2 linked regions of the Homo sapiens genome follow. The protein of the gene in region 1 interacts with the protein of each later gene in a pairwise test. Each region holds a gene or a part of one and is shown on either strand. Other genes may lie near its edges.

Evidence for each region.
Region 2: the proteins of PEX11G (region 1) and KCNJ6 interact in binary tests that used the Homo sapiens proteins (3 or more experiments, as listed by UniProt).

The regions. Positions count from the first base shown.
Region 1 is NC_000019.10:7,476,359-7,479,320, reverse strand, and holds the end of PEX11G (peroxisomal membrane protein 11C), read left to right. Parts: exon of another isoform or gene 1-944; coding exon 945-1,007; exon of another isoform or gene 1,008-1,884; coding exon 1,885-2,119; 3' UTR 2,120-2,446; downstream 2,447-2,962. UniProt on the Homo sapiens protein: Promotes membrane protrusion and elongation on the peroxisomal surface.
Region 2 is NC_000021.9:37,619,257-37,626,557, reverse strand, and holds part of KCNJ6 (G protein-activated inward rectifier potassium channel 2), read left to right. Parts: intron 1-1,073; coding exon 1,074-1,399; 3' UTR 1,400-7,301. UniProt on the Homo sapiens protein: Inward rectifier potassium channels are characterized by a greater tendency to allow potassium to flow into the cell rather than out of it.

The sequences.
Region 1 (2,962 bases):
GTAGAGACAGGGGTTCACCATGTTGGCCAGGCTAGTCTTGAACTCCTGACCTCAGGTGATCCACCGGCCTTGGCCTCCCAAAGTCCCGGGATTACAGGTGTGAGCCATCGCGCTTGGCCCAGAGCTTCTGATTCTGTGGGTCTGGGGAGCCCAGGAATCAGTGTTTTTCCCTAGCCCCCCAGGAGGCTCCCACCTGCTGTGCCACTGGCGCTATCCTGCATCCTGCACCCTGGGTACCCAGTGGCCAGAGGAGTTGTGACCAGGCCCTGCCCATTCTGTCACAGTCACAACCCGGCACACCCCACGGCCGAGGCTGGAGAGTGCAGGTGCCTGGTGGACTGGCCCGGGTGGGTGCCATGCACGGCTGCAGAGCCTGCTGGGAGCACAGAGGCTGCCCACTGGGTAGCCCCTTCCTCAGCCTGCAGATGCCAGCCCTGGGGGCCCAGGGGATCATCCAGACAGGTCCAGCCAATGTCCGGGGTGTGTGTGCAGGGGGTGCTGGCATGGCACTGATTTGGACCTTTCCACACAGAGCAGACAAGGCAGCTGAGGCCCGGAGGGGAAACGGCGTCCCCACGCCTGTCCAACTGCGGGCCTCTTGGCATCCTTTTCTGTGTAGGACTCCCTGCCAGGCTGTGAACACCTCACGGGGCTTGATGTTCCTTTGAGCACTTGCCAGTGGTTTGCAGAGGCTGGGCCAGGCCCTGGATGGCCACGTCAGAAGTGCAGGACGATGTCCCGGGTGGGACGGGGCCGTGTTAGAGATGAGTCCCCGGGAGCATGAGGCACAGCCAGGAGGGTGTGGGACTGTGGGGGCAGGGAGAGGGCAGGCCGTTTATCCGAGATGCAGCACCTGTCCCAGACTGTATGTCCGGGGCCAGCGTTGTGGAGCTAACCCTCCTGCTCCCCGCCGGGGCATCCTCCCTCGGGCTCTGGTGCTGCAGGTCCCTGTGGATGCTGCTGAAACTGAGACAGAGGCTGCGGAGCCCCACGGCGCCCTTCACCAGGTAGGAGCCCGTGATCACCCAGCAGGGAGGCCCACTCCCTCCAGCAGGCGTGGGATCCCGGCTCGCAGCCACCCCTGTGCAGGCCCATGCTGGGGACTGTTGTGCTCAGGTCATGGGGGAGTCATCACAGCCTCTGGTGGGTGGCGGTACCTTTTACAGATGGAGAAACTGAGGCTTGCTTGAGCGGGGACTCCAGGGCTGAGCCTTCATGGCTGCGCCCCCAGCAGGAGAGAATGATCAATTTCCCGAAGGCCATGGCCATTGTTACTGTTGCTTTTTCTTTTTGTTTTTTGAGACAGGGTCTTGCTCTGTTGCCCAGGCTGGAGCACAGTGGTGCCATCTTGGCTCACTGCAGCCTCTGCCTCCTGGGCTCAACTGATCCTCCTGTTTCAGCTTCCCGAGTAGCTGGGACTACAGGCACGGGCCAGCACGCCTGGCTAATTTTGTTTTTTATTTTTTGGTGGAGATGGGGTCTCGCCATATTGGCCAGGCTTATCGTCACTGTGTCATCCTGATAAAGAAAGGCCGGGCAGGCACAGGCCACGCTCCTGGGGGTTCCCCCTTCCCTCCACACCTCCCAAAGTGCATTTGTGCTTTCTGTTTTTCACAAGGAATCCCCATCTCTGGGTGTTCAGGACGAGGAGTGAGGTGTGGATTTGAGGACTTGGACCCGGGTTCCTGCCCTGTTCGTGCTTGGGTCGGGGGGGTGATGGGGACTCAGTCTCTGTGGATGGTCAGGGAGGCCACCTCAGTCCTGCCAGCTCCTCCCACTCACAGGCAGGGGCTCAGGGCTGCCAGGCCACACAGGGCATTCAGGGGCTTGGGAAGGGCAGGCAGGTGTGAGCGTGAGTGTAAGCGGCCCCTCTCTGCCCCACAGCCCGCTGCCCCGGGGCAAGCGGAGGGCCATGGAGGCGCAGATGCAGTCGGAGGCGCTGTCACTTCTCAGCAACCTGGCCGACCTGGCCAACGCCGTGCACTGGCTGCCCCGGGGCGTGCTGTGGGCCGGCCGCTTCCCGCCGTGGCTAGTGGGCCTCATGGGCACCATCTCCTCAATCCTCAGCATGTACCAGGCGGCCCGGGCCGGCGGCCAGGCCGAGGCCACTACCCCCTGACACTGCCGGAAGAGCACAGGGACACAGCCAGAGCCCACGGAGGGCCCTTCCCGCAAAGCAGAAGCCGCCAGGGCAGGGGCCGGGGCTCTCATGGAGCTGCCTGTGGTGAAACCCATGGGCAGGGTGGGTGGAGGGACTGATGCGAGGTCCCCCAGGCCTCAGCCTGGAGCTCCTGAGCCGTGACAGTTTTCAGGGGCCGTGCAGGGCTTCAGCAGCACCTCCTGCCTGCCAGCTGGCGTCTTGTATCCAAATCAAGATGAGGAAGAGGGGGCCTGTCGTGCCTTGAGAAAGCTGGAACGGGAATCAATTAAACATTGTGGTGCTGGCGCCTGGCTCAGGGGTGAAGGTTATTACACTGCTGGCTCCTGGCCCCTTACCCTCCACAGGACGGACCCAAAGTTGGAAACCACACTACCCCAGCCCACCTTCAGGAATGCCCTCAGCCCGGTGGGTCCTCTCCATCTTTGAGCAAGCGTTGCCCACGGACCCCAAGTGGCCTCCAGCCATTGAGGGCTGTTCTCTACTCCCCAGAGTCCTGGGCACACAGGCCAGAGGCGCCACCTCTCATCAGGCCACCCGAGGGCGTGGCCTCATGCCACTGTGCTGCCGACGCAGGGCCACTGTGAGCATTTTAAGGGCTCCAGGCTGAGACTGGGCAACACACACTGGCATCGCTGAAGATACTTGGGGCTCCCACCTCAGCCAATGTGTGGTGGGATGGGATGAGGGCACTGCTTAGTCTGCTGGCTGAGAACAACCCTTCAGAGTCTGTGCACATGTGGCCTCTGGCAGACATTGTTGCACAGCCTGGCCCAGGAACACACAACAGCCAGTGTGTGTGCG
Region 2 (7,301 bases), on another chromosome or scaffold:
TCCTCATTCTGCCATTTCATATTTAAGAGAAAGCTACTTCCTGACTCCAGGGCTGCTGGTAGCTCACGTGGTGCTTTTATGCAAATTACAAAAAGGCTTCTTATCTTTAAGAAAAGGGAAAAGTGGCCAGGAGCAGTGGCTCACGCCTGTAATCCCAACACTTTGGGAGGCTGAGGCAGGCGGATTGCCTGAGCTCAGGAGTTCATAAACAGCCTGGGCAACACGATGAAACTCCGTCTCTACTAAAATACAAAAAAAAATTAGTCGGACATGGCGGTGTGCACCTGTAGTCCCAGCTGCTCAGAAGTCTGAGACAGGAGAATTGCTTGAATCCTGAAGGTGGAGGTCGCAGTGAGCCGAGATCGCACCACTGCACTCCAGCCTGGGCGACACAGCGAGACTCCATCTCAAAGAAAAAAAAAAAAAAGAAGGGGGAAAAGCTTTTAAAGTAGTTATGATTGCACAGTCTGAGCAACTATGACCACTGGGCCTAAGTAAAGTGCAAATTCAGGTGGGTGACCCTTCCAACTGCATCTGGAGCCACAGTCATGGCCTGTGTGTTAATGGCAGGTGGGAGGGTAACACTGATCTGTGGCCTCTAGCTTAAAAGCAGCCTAAGTGTAGTTCCATATATGAAATTTCATTCTAAGTCTGTGGCCAAAGAGCTCAAATCCCATTAGAACCCAGGCTAAACCTCCAAGAGCAGTAGGAGGCCAGAGTCATGGCTTCAGGGTTCTCCCAGAGCAGAGTGGACCAGACATAGCCATGCACATGCGAAAACTTGTGTGCATTTGCACACTTGATTTCCTTTGCATGTGCATGGCCATGCAGGCAAATGTGGCTTGATGTGGGCCAGGACTCTCTCATTGTTCCCCAGGACTCCCTTAAGAGGCCTGGAATCTCCATGGCACATTAGCATGTGTCTACAACATGAATGACACCTACTAAGTGTGGCATCGTATGCAGGTCAGTCTCAACAGCTGCATGCAGTACTCCTCCTGGCTCTCTGTGACTCCTTGGCCATGGAAAGCCCACACTTACATATGCTAAAGCCTCCATTCTTCTCTCTGCAGGGATGACATGCCAAGCTCGAAGCTCCTACATCACCAGTGAGATCCTGTGGGGTTACCGGTTCACACCTGTCCTGACCCTGGAGGACGGGTTCTACGAAGTTGACTACAACAGCTTCCATGAGACCTATGAGACCAGCACCCCATCCCTTAGTGCCAAAGAGCTGGCCGAGTTAGCCAGCAGGGCAGAGCTGCCCCTGAGTTGGTCTGTATCCAGCAAACTCAACCAACATGCAGAACTGGAGACTGAAGAGGAAGAAAAGAACCTCGAAGAGCAAACAGAAAGAAATGGTGATGTGGCAAACCTGGAGAATGAATCCAAAGTTTAGTGCCCTAGCTGGGCAAACCCTTCTCTTCTCCCCCCAACACAATCTTTCCTTGTCTCTCATTCTCTTTCTTTTTCTGTCTCTCTTGCTTTGTTCTTTATTTGTTTATATTTAATTTTTACATGACCAGAAAACAAATCTTCAAGGTGTAAAATATCTACCTGCCCTCTCTCAGTTATTCAGATTGACAAGGTAGACATGGATTTGATGAAAGTGCAAAGTGCCCTCATTTGTGGCCCAAGCCTGGTCTCCTCCCAAAATACTACACATCCAACTCCTGGAGATTTCAGTTACTTACCTGCATGTGTTGTACAATACCAGATCACTCAAAAAGGTGTGTCAAAGATTTTACCTGGGATATGACAAGCAAGGTTTCTGGTGCCTATTTATTCATTCAGTGAGACACAGAGTGGAGCCCTCAGTTTTATGGATCCCAATTCATTTCATCTACTACAGGGTGAGGTGCTTGCCCCCATGTGGGTGTGGCAGTTACAGGGCCCAGGTGAGCTGAAGACAAACCACTGTACATATATATGCCTTATGTAATTATTTTCTTTTTGTAATTAGTAATAAAACCCAGCATGTACAAAAGTACCATAGAACAGAACTGCTAAATACTGTACATAGATGTATCATTAATGTAGGTTTAGATATATAACTTTAGAAATAAGAAGCAAAAAAAAAAAGAAAGAAAGAAAGATTCCTAACATGCAGTAGGCATTTCTGTTTTGATGTCTGTGTTTTCCAGGTTATTTTGATCCAGTTGACGGCTGGCCCTTCAGTGCATGGCCTTTGTTTGTGTCTCAGACTGGCAGACGTTAGGGTACCTCACTGTTCCCACACGGATCCTTTCATTGAATCCAACAAGCCATAGGTCTGGGGGAAATTGAGAGGTCTGGTAGATGGCAAAACCCACCACCAATATGCTGATATACTGTGAAATGTTACAAAACAGATGTCTTTTTTTAAAAGATAACAAGGGCCTCACTAACTGGCCTGGAGGAGGGGGAATACCAGGAAGGAAATATTCTCTAGCCTGTCACCAAAGGTATGTTTTTACTTTTCACATGAGCTCTTGCCCTTTGTAGTACAATAATTTAGGAAACTTTTCTGCAAAACCATTGATTCTCCAGCTGTAGTTTCTCTACACTCTTACAATGAGACATGGTAAGTTAGCAGAAGATGGTTTGGGTCTAAAGCCGTGAAATTCACAAAGGCATGTAGTGAGTGGCATGCATTATAATCATCGACCTCTCACTTTGACTCTATCTGGCTTTCTGAGAATGACATCTCGCCTGTCCCTGGGGCTTATCCATCAGCATTTCTTGCATTGTGATCTTTTATTATTTTGAAATGACCAGAGTTCAGTATTCAAAGATTAGATCAACAATCTTGATGATTGTCTAAGAAATGTCTCTAGAGTATGCCACAGGCTAGAAATCAAATCCAGTGTCTGTCAATCAAAAGAAAACAAATAAAAAAATTCCAGCCTTAATTCACTTTAATCTGCAAAAAGGAAAGAAGGGAGGAAGGGAGGGAGGAAGGAAGGAAGGAAGGAAGGGTATTTGTACTGGAAATCTGAATTTTAAAATGAAAAAAATAAGGAAACAAATCTTAGATCAAACCTCCGGGGCAGGTGGAGATTTTGCACTGTTACAGATCTTTCACATTCACTTTGCATTTATAAGCTGTTTGTTCTTTAACACAGTTGCCCATCATAAATATTCATTGAATGGATCCAAGTTTATTTTCAGCTCCTACAGCTGTGCTCAGTTTGAGGCTCTGCACCATGGAGGTCAAAGAGATCAAACTAGCTGTCCCTCTTTGTTTCCCTTGCCTTCCCTGACCTGATCGCACAGGCCTTTGGTGTAGTCTGGGGACCTTGTCTACTAAAAAAGAAGTCCCAGGATAAGGAAAGTGGCTCCTAAATATAACCTCGGGGCCTCTCTTCTCCCATCTCAGAGACCTTGGATCAGGACAACTGCCTCTTGGCACTGACTTTAAGGAAAACAAAACTGTTGGCTATAGCCCTTTCCTGTTTGCCAGCATTTCCTTTTTTGCATTGAATCTCTGTTGAATCATTTCTTTATTTCGCACACTCTAAGAAGGAGGTGGTGGTCCGGGAGGAGGAAGCTCGATACACTCCCCTTGAGGCTGCGGGGAGGAGCCATGGCTTGACCTCTCTGCAGCCTAATGAAGGGCACTCTTGGCTTGGGGAGCTCCCCTGCAACCTTGCCAGGGTCGCAGGGCAGGCCATGGCAGGCACAAAACAAGATGGAATAGGGGCGGCAAAATGTCTTCTAATTTAGCTCTTGAAGACTCACTGGGCCTTTTTAATTCCATTGCTAAGGTTTAAAGGACAGCGCACACCCCCGTGTCTGGTTGGAAGAGCAAGCAGCTCAGGGCCTCATCCCTGCTTGCCTGCCCTTTAGCACAACTGAACGAAGAGCCTTGACAACACGTTGGCCACGTGCACCTGTCAGTTCTGTGTCTGTGACGGGCACCCAGATGTGAGGTCTCTCCCTGTTTCTCACTGTCTTTGTTGTCAATGTAGTTGGAGACAGAACTTGAACCAAATCTCGTTTTTGTAATGTGAGCCTCTGAATCTTTACATGGGGATGCTCCTGAAGAACCTTTTACTAGAATGTCCCTATCAAACATGTCTATTTTTCTACAGTTGTTAACACAGTTTAACAGTGTATTTTGTGTCAACTGTTAAAATTTGGAACTGAAAGTTCATTGAGACTGATTTTCTAAGCAGCGAGTAGTGAGTGAATGGTGTTTTCCATTAAGACAGCTCAACAAAATTGACCCCACAATTTCCACTCATTCTATTCCGCAATATCCAGTCCTCATTCCCTCAGTCACTCCATTAGCAAACCAAGTGCAATGAGAATTTTTTAAAAGTCTCTTTTAATACAACAGTATCCATAACTAATGAAGATCACTCTCAACTAGATCCTTTGGTCTGTTTGGTTAATGTATTTGAGTCATTTTTCCATAAAGCATGGTGGGATCCGTGAGCCAGATAAGAATTTGGAATTTAAGGGTTATGGTTTGCCACAGTTGACCCCAATTTGACAGAACAAAGTGCTCCTGGATGGAAGGGCAGGTTCAGCTGCAAGCATGACCCCCCACCACAAGGCTGCTGAGTTCCTCGGATTCTCACCTCCACCCACCCCAACGTGCTCTCCAACTGGAAGAGCACCCATTCATTTATAAATCAACTTTATGGAACCAATAAAATCATTTCTGTTTTAGCTGTCCCCTGGGTAAGCTATACTCTTTTACATTAACATAGCAAATGTCAACTTTTCTGTTCCTTCAAACATGGCCTTCCAGCCTGGTTGTTCCAGCATATATCCCCTCTATGTCCATGAGGCAGAACTCTCTCTTCCCCCACTCCGTTCTTCCATCTATCCCCATCCTTTGCTGTTTCCCTGGTTCTCCAGTTCCAATTCTATTGTTTTAGTTCAGTACCTTATGTTCCCTAACAGAAATCCAGCTGCAAATGTCAACCTATTTCTTAAGCACAATTTTCTCTTGCAGGTCTAACCAAGCTAGGGCTCTGAAATGTCTATTTTTCACTGCACTCCAATTTAAAAATTATTCATGACTTCATTTAATAGTCTAAATTTTGAATTCTCCAGAGCAACATTCTTATGCTTTCCATCCCTACATTTTCTTACATTTCAGTTTTCTTACTTTTTTCCCCTTTGCTTTTTTATTTAGATTTAAGCCAGTGTCTTTGGGATATTTAGAAACTGCTTACAAAGGTGGGAACTGGTGGACAGAGAAAGGGGGCATAAGAATGCTATTAGAAAACTACCTGAACTCACCAGAAGAATGGGAAATCATTTGATTTGCTGAGAGAATACAATTAAAATACTCATAGTAAATCATTTCCAAAACAGTTTGCTAATAGTCTGGCTACTCTTCAGTCTTTCTTTCCTTGACTTGGGTGATACTCTGTATGATTTAAAAATGTCAGGAAGGTAGTTGAAAGTTCAGTGTCCTCTATATATTGTAAACATTATCTTCAAGGATGATTTCCTTTCAATGGATGGCTTTAACATTGAAAAACATAGGTAACATATACATAATAGATGATTCATTGATATTACTTTACAATACACTAAAATAACATTATCTTGTTTCTGAACTTTATGGCCAACCGGTATCTAAGAAAATGTTAGCCTTTAATTTAAAATTGAGTAAAGCACGCCTCTTCCTAATATTTCTGCCTTTAATGTCTTGAGTGCTTTAGATGCAGAGTGTCATCTAGAAGTCAAAATTCTGTCAGAAGGCTGCTAAGAGATTTTGATAAATCACAGAATATATAATAATAACCCAACAATATTTTACCCAACATGGTGTGGTGTTTGAGAGCATTAAGAGCACTTGTACAAATTATCTTATTTCATTCTAATTCACCATGAGAGGTTGAGTATTATAATTTACATTTTATAGAGGGAAAACTAGGGTTTGGGCAAATTGGCCAAGTTTAAAGGCCAGTGAATCATAGCTCCTTGTCTCAAATCCAGGTCACAGGGCCCTAAGCTGTGGGCTATTTTTACTACAAAAAATTTCAGCAAACCAAATCTGCTAAAAAAAAAAAAATCTGGCCTGCTGCCTGTTATTGTACCACTTGTGAGCTAAGAGCAATTTTTACATTTTTTAATAATTGGGGGAAAAAAAAGAAAAGAAGAATATTTTGAGACATGTGAAAATCATCCTAAATTCAAATTTCAATGTCCACAAACAAAGTTTTATTGGAACACAGCCACAGCCATTTGTCTGTGTATTGCCTATGGCTGCTTCCACATGCACTCACAGAGCTGAGTAATTACAACAGAGACCGTGTGGCCAGCAAAGATTGAAATATTTACTATCTGGCCCTGTATAAAAAAAGTTTGCTGACCCCTGTACTGTACTGTTAAGTACTATTGGTACTATTAAGTACTAGTAATAGTACTATTAATAATAGTATGTAAGAGTACTAAGTACTATGAAATATTGTACTGTACTCTTAAGAGAGTCCTAGGCAATATAGAAGAATGACTTTTTTTCTAGCATAAATTATTGAAGTCACTCATAAGTCTGTTCAAAATAACATAACTCTTTTTTTTCGGTTGTCAAAGAGACAACTGCTTCACAAGACTTAGAGAGCCCAGTCATTCAGTTAGGGTCTCAAAGGAAGAATCCTTCCTTTTCATGCCATTCCTCCAGAGTGGCAAATAGAGTCAACAGCCAGCCAGGATCTAGCGGTCAACTCAGAAAGTGGATACAGTAAAATTACTCCTTAATGAACTACAGAGAAATGGGCATTCCCAGCCCAGCCGCTGAAATATTGCTTCAGTGGCACCCTCAGGCGTTGGATGATGTACATAGCTCAGGCTGCCAGTCTCTGCTCAGCAAAGCAGCCCAGACCTGCAGTGGTTGCCACACATCAAACCCGCCTCGCTCCTCCACATGGCTTCTCTCTTAGGCTCTCTTGGAGGAGAGTTAAATAGGTGGCCCAGATGTCTCCCTCTGTTTTCTTGCTAGTTTTCTCTAGCCTACAGTTTACAACTGATCAAGGTGATGAACGTGAACCTGGAACTAGCTCATGTTTAATTGCGCTAGTTTTTGCTCTCTCTAGCCACTAAGCTAGAAGTTTAATGTGTAATTAAAGAACTAAATGCTTCTTATGGAAAACCAAAAGGTCCTTTGAAAAGAGCTCAGGGAGACACGGAAGTATAGTAAAGGGTTGTTGGATTTCTTGCGCTTTCTGAGTCTGAAGCAAAGACAAAGATTGGTAATTACAGACATAATGGATGGAAAAAGTCCAGACCTTGGGGTTTTTAGATGAGTCAATATTAAATGGCATTCTTTGTGTCACTAAGCTGAACTCCCTTGTCTTCTA